Homo sapiens: one gene and its partners. The protein of the gene in region 3 interacts with the protein of the main gene of each other region in a biochemical or structural test. Each region holds a gene or a part of one and is shown on either strand. Other genes may lie near its edges. The genes, in order: LPL, THBS1 and LRP1.

What was found.
Region 1: the proteins of LRP1 (region 3) and LPL form a complex in vitro, tested with the Homo sapiens proteins (3 studies listed by BioGRID).
Region 2: the proteins of LRP1 (region 3) and THBS1 form a complex in vitro, tested with the Homo sapiens proteins (3 studies listed by BioGRID).

What each region holds. Positions count from the first base shown.
Region 1 is NC_000008.11:19,949,166-19,952,911, forward strand, and holds part of LPL (lipoprotein lipase precursor), read left to right. Parts: intron 1-2,603; coding exon 2,604-2,783; intron 2,784-3,746. UniProt on the Homo sapiens protein: Key enzyme in triglyceride metabolism.
Region 2 is NC_000015.10:39,578,826-39,582,571, reverse strand, and holds the start of THBS1 (thrombospondin-1 precursor), read right to left. Parts: upstream 1,494-3,746; 5' UTR 1,344-1,493; intron 865-1,343; exon of another isoform or gene 744-864; 5' UTR 715-743; coding exon 648-714; intron 380-647; coding exon 1-379. Other genes in the region: uncharacterized protein LOC124903470, read right to left, coding at 1,820-2,254. UniProt on the Homo sapiens protein: Adhesive glycoprotein that mediates cell-to-cell and cell-to-matrix interactions.
Region 3 is NC_000012.12:57,208,385-57,212,130, forward strand, and holds part of LRP1 (prolow-density lipoprotein receptor-related protein 1 preproprotein), read left to right. Parts: intron 1-326; coding exon 327-433; intron 434-698; coding exon 699-815; intron 816-1,307; coding exon 1,308-1,484; intron 1,485-1,644; coding exon 1,645-1,785; intron 1,786-1,922; coding exon 1,923-2,096; intron 2,097-2,333; coding exon 2,334-2,495; intron 2,496-2,791; coding exon 2,792-2,966; intron 2,967-3,102; coding exon 3,103-3,204; intron 3,205-3,365; coding exon 3,366-3,430; intron 3,431-3,542; coding exon 3,543-3,633; intron 3,634-3,732; coding exon 3,733-3,746. UniProt on the Homo sapiens protein: Endocytic receptor involved in endocytosis and in phagocytosis of apoptotic cells. Required for early embryonic development. Involved in cellular lipid homeostasis.

The DNA of each region.
Region 1 (3,746 bases), on a different chromosome or scaffold from region 3:
AAAGATATATTATCTATCCATTATGTCAGAGCTTGTGAATATTATAATACTAATTTCTAGTGAGAACTAACTAAAAATAACATTCATCTAGTCCACATTTCTTTTCCTACATAATTTAAGTGGCTTTGTTATTGACTGAAGAGGACAATCGCTACAATTTTTATAGAGATGAGACTACTACTAACAGAATTCACACAGATGTTTAACAAAATATAGCCATTTACTATGTTAACATAGTAAATTCAATATTTTGTGATAAAATCTCAAATTCCTAAACATAAATCCTTTAATATTTTAATAGGTGTAAGTAGGAAAAAGGAATCTTTTTCTTTTTTGAGATGGAGGCTCACTCTATTGCCCAGGCTGGAGTGCAGTGGCGCGATCTCGGCTCACTGCAACCTCCGCCACCTGGGCATAAGAGATTCTCCTGCCTCAGCCTCCCGAGTAGCTGGGACTACAGGCGCCCACCACCACACCCGGCCAATTTTTATATTTTCAGCACAGGCAGGGTTTCACCCTGTTGGCCAGGCTGGTCTCGAACTCCTGACCTCAAGTGATCTACCCACCTTGGCCTCCCAAAGTGTTGGGATGACAGGCGAGAGCCACTGCATCTGGCCCAGAAAAAGGAATCTTTAGAGGCCCTTTGGTTATATACAGAACTTGGATTTTAAAATTTTTCAAAAAATCTGAGCTTAATAAACGCATTTATACAACAGAAATAAATTGAGTATCTCAGTCATCTCAATCTTATCCCTGAGAGAATTTTATACTTTGGGAAGTTGTGGGAAAAAAATGGTTCTTTTTCATACTAAGATGACATGACCAACCCAATATCAACAGACGGTGCCACTTCCTATCATTGGTCCTACTGCCTCACTAAGCCCACCTGTATCTTTCACATCATGTGTCCTGACATTTTGAGTGCTTGAGCACAGAGACTGCTGTCTGGCTGTGGGACTGAGTTGGGTCTGTGCAAGAACTAAGCCAGCCACACTGATCTTGATTATCTCAGTGAACTCACTGGCAGGGTCAGGTGGCCCACCTGGTATAGGCAGCAGGGAGGGCTTCAGTTCAGCTGCGTGTCTGAAAACCAAAGATTTAAAACATAGTAATTATTGAACCTCAGAAGAAAAACTCAGATTGAAAGAACTTAGAATAAGACCCTTTTTGAGTTGAGAAAGGTGAGTACTTAGATTTTTCATTTGCTTTGTTTGGGATTACTTACATCAGTATTTTATGTTGATCAGAAAGAAAGGATTCAATTAGCTATTGTTCGGTTAATAAAAATGTCAGCCACTGTAGGAGTAAGTTGGATGTCCAGCCTTTTTAGATTGCTTAACTTGGAAACACTGGGCTGGGAGCGGTGGCTCATGCCTGTGATCCCAGCACTCTGGGAGGCCAAGGCAGGCAGATCACTGGAGGTCAGGAGTTTGAGACCAACCTGGCCAACATGGGGAAACCCAATCTCTACTAAAAAAATACAAAAAAATTAGCCAGGTGTGGTGGTATGTGCTTGTAGTCCCAGCTACTCAGGAGGCTGAGGCAGGAGAATCGCTTGAACCAAGGAGGCGGAGGTTGCACTGAGCTGAGATCATGCCACTGCACTCCAGCCTGGGCGAGACAGTAAGACTCTGCCAAAAGAAAGGAAAGAAAGGAGGGAAAGAAAGGAAGGAATGAAAGGAAGGAAGGGAAGGAGGAAGGGAAGGAGGGAGGGAGGAAGGAAGGAAGGAATGAAGGAAGGAAGGAAGGAATGAAGGAAGGAAGGAAGGGAGGGAGGAAGAAAGGAAGGAAGAACAAAGAAAAGAGAAACACTGGTAGTACAGAAAAACTTCTGATAGAGGCCTAGAGTAAACCCGATTTTCTTGCCTTATCTGAAATAAGCTGCCTGGGGACTCACAGGCACAGACGAAGGGAAATGAGGAGGCTCTCCAGCTGTGTCATGAGACACCCAAAGGAATGCTTAGCATGTAGCATGCATGTGATACATCCCAGCAGGTTGCTTAGACACAGCTATCTTGGAGCTTTGCCACTTGCTTGGATGTCACTGGCTTTAAGTACAGGGTTCCCATTGTGAAGTAGGGGATCCTGGCTGAAACAGGGAGACATTAACATTACATTCTGAAGAAATGACATCAACCTCTCCTGATCTTGAAAGCCAACTACAAAGGGTGCCCAACACCCCAACCTTGAAGGGAGGCGAAGGTGAGTGGGACTGGACCAATTCAACAGGGTTCTGCTCCTAGCCAGGTGCTCCTGCTAGTTTCCTCAAAGACCCACTTTGCATTCAGACCAATCTTTCCTTTTAATAGTATAAATGATCAAAATTTTATTGAATGTCTAAAATATACTTTTTAAATGGGAAGCATGGTGAACCCCAATCTGCCGTTCCTCAACTCAACTCAATGCCTTCCTGGCTTACTTAGATCTGCCTTGGAAGGGACAGACCTGTCTCTGAACACTGTTCTGTTATTTGATTTTTCTATCTGTGCCAATGGGTTTCCAATCAAGTTTGTTTTTTCCATTTCATGCAGGTGTATTGGGCTGATGTATCTATGACAAGTGGTAGGTGGGTATTTTAAGAAAGCTTGTGTCATCATCTTCAGGTAACAGGAATGTATGAGAGTTGGGTGCCAAAACTTGTGGCCGCCCTGTACAAGAGAGAACCAGACTCCAATGTCATTGTGGTGGACTGGCTGTCACGGGCTCAGGAGCATTACCCAGTGTCCGCGGGCTACACCAAACTGGTGGGACAGGATGTGGCCCGGTTTATCAACTGGATGGAGGTAAGACTGGGAGAAGGAGACTTATGTGTCCAAAACAGTGTTTTTGACTGGAGCCAGAAAACCGGCTGTTCTTTCTTCCTTTTCTCTTAGATTTAAATATTTTCTGGGGGCATTCAAATCTTCAGAATCAGCGTGGATATTATTTTATATCCAAAAGCAACATTTTGATAAGAATAGACTATAAGGCCAATAAATAGTCCTGCCCTGCTCTATCGTTTGATATTTTCACAGTGAATAGATCTGCTGAGACCAATAACTAAGTGGGCCCAACAGAAAAAAGCTTGTGATTTTCGGACAGAGGAAAGATGGCATGTTCAGCCAGACCCTTCCCTACCAGTTGGCTGGCCTGTGGACATCTTATCCTCACCTTGACATACCAATCTCTTTCATGAAAATATTAATAGTACTTATTCTTTAGTGTGAAATAGGATGAACGTTTTTGTTGAGCATTGGGAGAGTGATGGAATTGAGCTAGGAAGATGTTGGAAGGGAAGGTGCATAGGATAGAAGGGAACTGAGGTCTGGAGTTCTGACTTAGCTGCAAGAGACCCACTTTTTCACACGATCCCTTGAGAAGTACCTCTGAAAAGTATCTTGGGGTTGGAAAGAAGCTGATACTCTGACCAAGGCAAATTATTTTAACCAGGTAATTGGAAGTAAAAAATAAGCTGTGTTTATTAGACTGATCATAAAAGACAAAAGTTCTTTTCTTGTCTTTTTTGCTGACCAGGCAAATGAACATGGGCAAACGGGATCACCTCCCTGGGGCTCAGGCTTCTCACCTGTTAAATGAGGGGCTGGACCATGTACCTCTGGTCCCTTCCACTGAATGTTTCCTGAGTCTGTCATTGCTTGGCTAACCTTCAATGATAAAGTGATACAGATATTTAGAGTAAGGAATAATGGGAAAATATATACCCATATACTATACATTCAAACATACACACATATACATATATGCAT
Region 2 (3,746 bases), on a different chromosome or scaffold from region 3:
GCCAGGAGAGCTTCTTCCACAGACACCACGTGCTGCTTTCCTTGGACGGTCAGGCTGAGGTCCAGGGTGCCCGCCTTGCCATTGGACACCACGCTGAAGACCTGGCCAGAGTGGTCTTTCCGCTCCAGGGCCAGCAGCGTGCCCCGGGTCTTCTTCATCTGCCTCAGGGATGCCAGAAGGAGGAAACCCTTTTCTGCCCGCACAGCATCCACCAGGTCTTGGAACTTGTCATCAGGCACAGGGGGGATCAGGTTGGCATCCTCGATGCGGAAAGCTGGGCTGGAAGGGTCGGGGCCCTTCACCAGTCGGCGCCCAGACCCCTTGCGGGCGGCCCCGGTGAGTTCAAAGATGTCAAACACGCTGTTGTCTCCGCCAGACTCTGTTAGACAGGAGAGAACACAAAGTGAGCTTTCTAGGCTGGGACCAGCAGTAGGGGGCTGAGTCCTTAGGGGTGGAGACAAAGGGTTGGGGTGAAAACTCCTGGCAACCACTGAAAGAGGTGAATAAATACCAGGATCAGAGTGAAGCTGCGTCCTGATGTCCAGTCAGGCTCAAGAGGGAGAGGACAGCACGTGAGGGGGCACACCTGGGATAGCCAGCACCTCTTCCTTGTCCCTCCTTCCCCTAAAGGTGCCACACAAACTCACCTGGAATGCGGTTGGTGCCACACACATGCATCAGGAACAGGACGCCTAGTCCCCAGGCCAGCCCCATGGTGGAGCTGTTGGTGCCCAGCAGGGATCCTGTAGCAGGAAGCACAAGAGCCGAGGGTCAGAGATCAGCTAGGCAGGGAGGGACGGTGCGCAGAAACGGGGCTGGGCATGGGGACAGGGCCGGGACCATCCCTCTTTGACCCCGCGTTTGCTGAAATGAAGGACAACAGGATTACTTTCCAGAGAGCATGAGAGAGAGAGAGAGAGAGAGAGAGAGAGGTGGAGGAAAGAGATGCTGGTTTTAAAGTGTGGGGGGCGCAAGACCAACAATTTGGGGGCTTTTGGGAAGTCGAAGGTGAGCAAGATCAGGAACTGTAGTTTGGGGTTGCAGGGAGGGCAGGGGAAGTACAGACTCTTCCCTGGAGTGCTGATACAAAGGCTTAAGGAGGACTTCAGAGAGTAAGGAAATCTTGGGGTGTCCTGATGAGTTGGTTTGTGAACCTCAAGGCTGGAGAGGATGGCTCTGGAGCCTTGCCCTGAAGAGTCCTCCAGCGGCTGAGAGGAGCGGGCTGGGGTAGGCGAGCGGGGAGAGTGTAGGTTCCGGGGTCCACCAGAGGGACTGAAGCCTCAGCGCTCCAGGTGGATGTCCCGGGCAGCTTTGGTCCTCGGCGGCCGCCGGGGGCGACTTACCTGTGTGTACCGGAGCGCGGCGGCCGGGAGCGGTGGCGAGGGCGGCGAGGGCTGGAGGGGCGCGGGGAATGCCTGTGCGTCCGGAGTAGAGGTTGCTCCTGGAGAGCGACAGGAGCCCTGAACTCGCAGGCCAGCTCGGGCGCAGCGGCTGGCAAGGCGGAGGAGCCGCGCGCTTTTAAAGGGGCGCTCGCATTCCTGGGGATTCCTCCGGCCAATGGGCGGCGGCCGGGCAGGAAGCGGGAGGTGGGGGCCAGTCTGGGCTCCTCTCTCCGCCCCCCGCTGCCTGGCGCGCAACTTTCCAGCTAGAAAGTGAAGGGGGCGGGGGTCGGGGCTTGGGAGCACTAGAACTTCTCAGAAAAGTCGGTGCCCGCCCACGCAGCCTTGGCGCGCACGGGCTCGGCGCTCGTACTCTTGCGCCACGCGGGCTCGGGGTGATCAGCAAGCATCCCGAAAAGGGACGGGGCTGGGGAGACCACCTAGGAGGGCCCGCGGGGTGGCGCAGGGGCTTTCGGGCGAGCTGATCTCCCGGAATGCCTGGTTGATGGCGAGAGGTGGATACTAGAGACTGGGCCCGTTTTGTAAAAAGAAAAATGGGCCGACGGGGCGCAGGGGACACCAAGAGAGCCATTCGTTAAAGTACCTGCCCCTCGGGCCCTCGCTGACTCTCCTCCACCGTCCCCGTGGGGTGAGGACACGCGTCCCCCGAGCGCCTGTCCTGAGCTGGCCCCACGCCCGCCCCGGAGGGAGGTGAGCGCGGCGTCGGCGGGGCCGGCAGGTTGGTGCGCCGCGTTCGCCTTCGCTGCCTTCGGGCCCTTTCCTGCCGCGGCTGCCAGGGGGCCCACAGAGACGCCTCTCCCGCTGCCGCGGCGCTCCCTCGGCCGGCCGCTTGGGGGCGGTGTGCGTATTCTCATCAAGGGGCCCGGGGAGGACAGCTGCTTTCTACTCGAATTTTAAGGAAACTTACTCGTATCCAGTTTCCACAAGCCAAATTGAAATTGTGTCTTGAAAAACAGTTTTTGTGCCCACTCGTGCTTCTTAACGTGACTCCTGTTTGGAGAATTTGCAGAACCATCTGGCTCCAGAGTCTTCAGCTATTTACAGAGCAGACCCATAGAGTAATAAATTACTCTCTGCCTATTATTGTATTTCCCTTTTTCCTCCCTAAACGTTCTTTTCATTTTTCGGCTCCTGAACCCGAGGTGTGGGTTACATTTCTGTGGGTGCACACATTGCCATGAGTGCCGCTGCCTAGTGCTTCTGTCATTGAAGTCTGGTCTCCAAGCCACTGTCCCAAGCCAGCATGACTCTAGCTTCCTGGAATTCCATTCATCTCTTCGGGATGGGACGTCAGCCGCCTCGCTCCCTCTGCTGTGATCCAGCGCTATCGGGCTCGCTCCGAGGCCAGGGCATAGGTAGAAGCTTGACCAAATAAGGATCTCAGCACGGGCAGGGGGAAACCCCTGGGGTTCACCTCCCATCTTAGCACTTAAACCTGGCAGGACTCCCGACTGCTGCAAACAGCCAAGTGTTTACATTCATCAAACAGCAGTTTCGCTTTTCTTGCGTGGGAGTGTTGTATGACAAGATGGTGTGTGTGTGTGTGTGTGTGTGTGTGTATTACGGAAAGAGTGTTTTCTAGTTACTCAATATGTATATAAAATGCCTCTAAAAGATGACCGGTATGTTCCTAAGGCACATGTTTGTTGGATTTCAGATGTTGGGAGGCAGAAAGAAAAGTTTCTACTGGTTGATGAATAAAATCAGATTCTTGTCCCGCAAATCATAGGTAATGATTCATCCAAGCAGATCTGAAGATTCTGGAATCGGCACCCATCCATCTCCCTCCCCTTCCTTCTCCTTCTACAGCATTCATCTTGCTCTTCGAAAAGTAATTGGGTTTTTTTTTTCTTCTTTCCACTTGCTCCATGATACTGGACAGTCAGAAATAGTTCTTGGAGGGATGGGCCGCTCATGGCTCTGGGCTCCTCTGGCCCACTGGATCATTGTGTACAAATCAGATGGGGGCTTGAGGGCTGCAAGAGGCCCACAAAAGCAGAATGCATCTTGTATGAAAAGATTATCTCCCCTAGGCTTAGCTGTGCAGACAGAGTAGAAACCAGCACTCACTGCCCCTTCAGGATTCATGCTGCCATGGCTGAGGGATTGTAGGAATGCCTCTGCAGATTTCTTGGAACTTGGCTTCTTTCAACAAAACAAGGACAACAGTTTCCAAACTTCATCATGCTTTACCAATAAGAAGGTGACCTATACGGTGGCAGGAAAGAGCTTTCTTATTAGAGAAAGCTGACAGGTATAGGAGCTGCTTATCTCAAACACAAAGCCCTTCCTCTTATCATGATACTTCAGTTGTTCTGGGTGGAAAGGAAAGGTCATAGAAGAGGG
Region 3 (3,746 bases):
GCTGCCTCTGCCCAGGGCCCCCAGCTGGGCCTGCTTGGGCAGGGATCTGACCTCTGCTTGGCCGGCTGTCATGCACAGCCACACTCTGCCCTGGGGAACAGCTCTGCCAGCGTCGGTGGCTCTGAATGAGCACACTGTGGTTTTAGAGGAAAAGCCCCTCAACCTGCTCAGAAGCAGACTCCCGCCTGCTTCTCTGTAGAAGGACAGAATGCCCTCCTCCCAGTCCCCAGCAGTCCCTGTCCCCAGACCAAGAAGCTGGTGTCCTGCCTGGGCCTGCCTCCTCTGGCCCTCCGGCCTGCCCACACTCACCCCTTCTCCCTCCCCAGGACCATGTACTGGTCAGACTGGGGCAACCACCCCAAGATTGAGACGGCAGCGATGGATGGGACGCTTCGGGAGACACTGGTGCAGGACAACATTCAGTGGCCCACAGGTTTGTGGGGCAGGGTGCAGGAGGGACGGGCATGGAGGGGGCCCGGCTCGCAGAGCCCAGCTGCTGCTGAAGTCACACAAAAGCAAGGGATGGGATGGGGCTTGGACTGGGGCAGGGCAGATTGGCCGTGGAGGCTTTTCCCGAAAGAGGTGACTGTGAGTGGCGTATGAACAGGGTGGAGCTGTCCCGGGCATGGAGGCAGTTCTTTCCACCCCGAGCCTGGGTTGGGGAGGCCAAGCTCTCACAGTGCTCTCTCTCTCCCCAGGCCTGGCCGTGGATTATCACAATGAGCGGCTGTACTGGGCAGACGCCAAGCTTTCAGTCATCGGCAGCATCCGGCTCAATGGCACGGACCCCATTGTGGCTGCTGACAGCAAACGAGGTCAGAGCCCGGCATAAGTCGCAGTCCCCAGCCCTGTCCCCAGCCTTGCCATCCTCCCTACTGAGCCAAAGGCCTCACTTCAATGCCTCCCATCCTTTGTCACTGACCCCCAGCAATGCTGCAGCGCCTTCCAGGCCTCTCCAGCTGGCCTCCCCCTGAACCAGCCCTGCAGGCCTGAGACCCACCCTGACCCTCTGGCCTACTTGTCCATTCATTGGTTGGGTTGCACGGAGGCAGCATAGGTACATTAGGAACGTAGCAAATTGGGGGAGAAGGAATAGAAGTCAGTCATGACTGACCCCAGAAGTCTGGGGGTGATGGGACCTTTTGCCAGTAGTGGCCACAGGAGGAGGAACCGGTGTGGGGAGAGAGAATTTGGTCTGGATGTGTTGAGTTTGAGGTGTCTGGGAACCACAGGTGCCAGTGTCGTGGACAGCATGGCCAGGGCCTGAGTGCCCCTCAGGTCCCCTCTGACTCCACCTCCTCCCCCAGGCCTAAGTCACCCCTTCAGCATCGACGTCTTTGAGGATTACATCTATGGTGTCACCTACATCAATAATCGTGTCTTCAAGATCCATAAGTTTGGCCACAGCCCCTTGGTCAACCTGACAGGGGGCCTGAGCCACGCCTCTGACGTGGTCCTTTACCATCAGCACAAGCAGCCCGAAGGTGGGGGCAGAGGGGAGCCTGGGCTGGGGAAGGGAGGCCTGTGGGCATTGAGTCTCCAAGCTGTGGCCCTGGGACCTGGTGGAGAGGGGGTCACCCTGGGCTCACAGGGCTCAGAGAAGGGTCCTGCTCAGCATCCTCCCCACCCCACCCATACCTGCAGTGACCAACCCATGTGACCGCAAGAAATGCGAGTGGCTCTGCCTGCTGAGCCCCAGTGGGCCTGTCTGCACCTGTCCCAATGGGAAGCGGCTGGACAACGGCACATGCGTGCCTGTGCCCTCTCCAACGCCCCCCCCAGATGGTATGCTTATGCCCTCCCAGTCCCAGCCATGCCTCAGGACCATCTCCTTCCTGTGGCTCCTGACTTCCCCTGACCTTGTTGCCTGTCCCTCTCCTCCTATTCCCCTGGCTCTGCCCCTTGACGGGCCCTTCCTGCAGCTCCCCGGCCTGGAACCTGTAACCTGCAGTGCTTCAACGGTGGCAGCTGTTTCCTCAATGCACGGAGGCAGCCCAAGTGCCGCTGCCAACCCCGCTACACGGGTGACAAGTGTGAACTGGACCAGTGCTGGGAGCACTGTCGCAATGGGGGCACCTGTGCTGCCTCCCCCTCTGGTATGCCCCCTCATCCCGCCACGCCTGCTCCTTGCCCCTGGGCCCCAGCCCCGCCACCCACCACCCCACCTCAGGCAAATGCCCAGCCCCTGCCTCGCCTCCAGCCTCCTTTCCACAACCCAGCATCCAGTCACTCCAGTCTCTGCTTCTCGCCCAGGTCCCCCCAGCCCATTCCTCTGCTATAGGGCCAGGTGGTCTCGAGGGCCACAGTCGCGCTCACACATCCTCTCCCACCAGGCATGCCCACGTGCCGGTGCCCCACGGGCTTCACGGGCCCCAAATGCACCCAGCAGGTGTGTGCGGGCTACTGTGCCAACAACAGCACCTGCACTGTCAACCAGGGCAACCAGCCCCAGTGCCGATGCCTACCCGGCTTCCTGGGCGACCGCTGCCAGTACCGTGAGTGAGCCATCCCTGGGCCCCAGGGCATGCGGGAGGGTGACGGGGGACCCCAGAGCATGGGGTGATGTTCAACCTGTGCCTGGGACCCACAGGGGCAAGTTCAGGAAAGAAGGCCTTATGCAGCTGAGCCAGGCCCAAGCTGCTGGCGCTTCCCCACAAAGGTGCTGGCACACTTCCCCTGAGGCAGTGCACCCCCTGCACCAAGATTATGCAAACAGAAAAGCTCTGTTCAACCTATGGAGAGCCCTCATGAGGGTGGGGCTTGAGGCACTTCTCTCCCTCCCCAACCACAGGGCAGTGCTCTGGCTACTGTGAGAACTTTGGCACATGCCAGATGGCTGCTGATGGCTCCCGACAATGCCGCTGCACTGCCTACTTTGAGGGATCGAGGTGTGAGGTGAACAAGTGCAGCCGCTGTCTCGAAGGGGCCTGTGTGGTCAACAAGCAGAGTGGGGATGTCACCTGCAAGTGAGTGGGGCCCTCCTCCACAGTTCCACCCAGCTGGGCCCCTGCCCTGTCCTAGCCCTGCCCTGCCCCTCCCTTCCTCAGCATCCCAGGCACGCCTCTGCCAGCCCCAGCCCCAGCCTCTGATTCCTTCCTGCAGCTGCACGGATGGCCGGGTGGCCCCCAGCTGTCTGACCTGCGTCGGCCACTGCAGCAATGGCGGCTCCTGTACCATGAACAGCAAAATGATGCCTGAGTGCCAGTGAGTTGGGCCCGGGCTTCACCCAGGCATAGATCATCGCTCCCTTCCCCAGATTTGAGCAGGAGGACCGTCAGGCCTCAGTGCCCACCCCCCGCCCTGTTTTCCTGGCAGCAGTGGCTATGGAGGTTATACCTACTCAGCCGTGTCCCTCCTTTCTGCAGGTGCCCACCCCACATGACAGGGCCCCGGTGTGAGGAGCACGTCTTCAGCCAGCAGCAGCCAGGACGTAGGTGGCAGGGGTTGGGGCAGGCAGGGCCACCGGGACCTAGAGCAGGGGGACCGTGTGCCTCCTGCTTCCCTGAGCCTTGGTGACTCAGTGTCCCACCTCTTCCCTCCAGATATAGCCTCCATCCTAATCCCTCTGCTGTTGCTGCTGCTGCTGGTTCTGGTGGCCGGAGTGGTATTCTGGTATAAGCGGCGAGTCCAAGGGTGAGTCACAGGGATTCTGGAACATTCTGGTCATTATTTTGCCATCCTAGCCTTCCCCCCCAATAATCTCTGTCTCCTTATACTCCTGCCTTTCCCCAGGGCTAAGGGCTTCC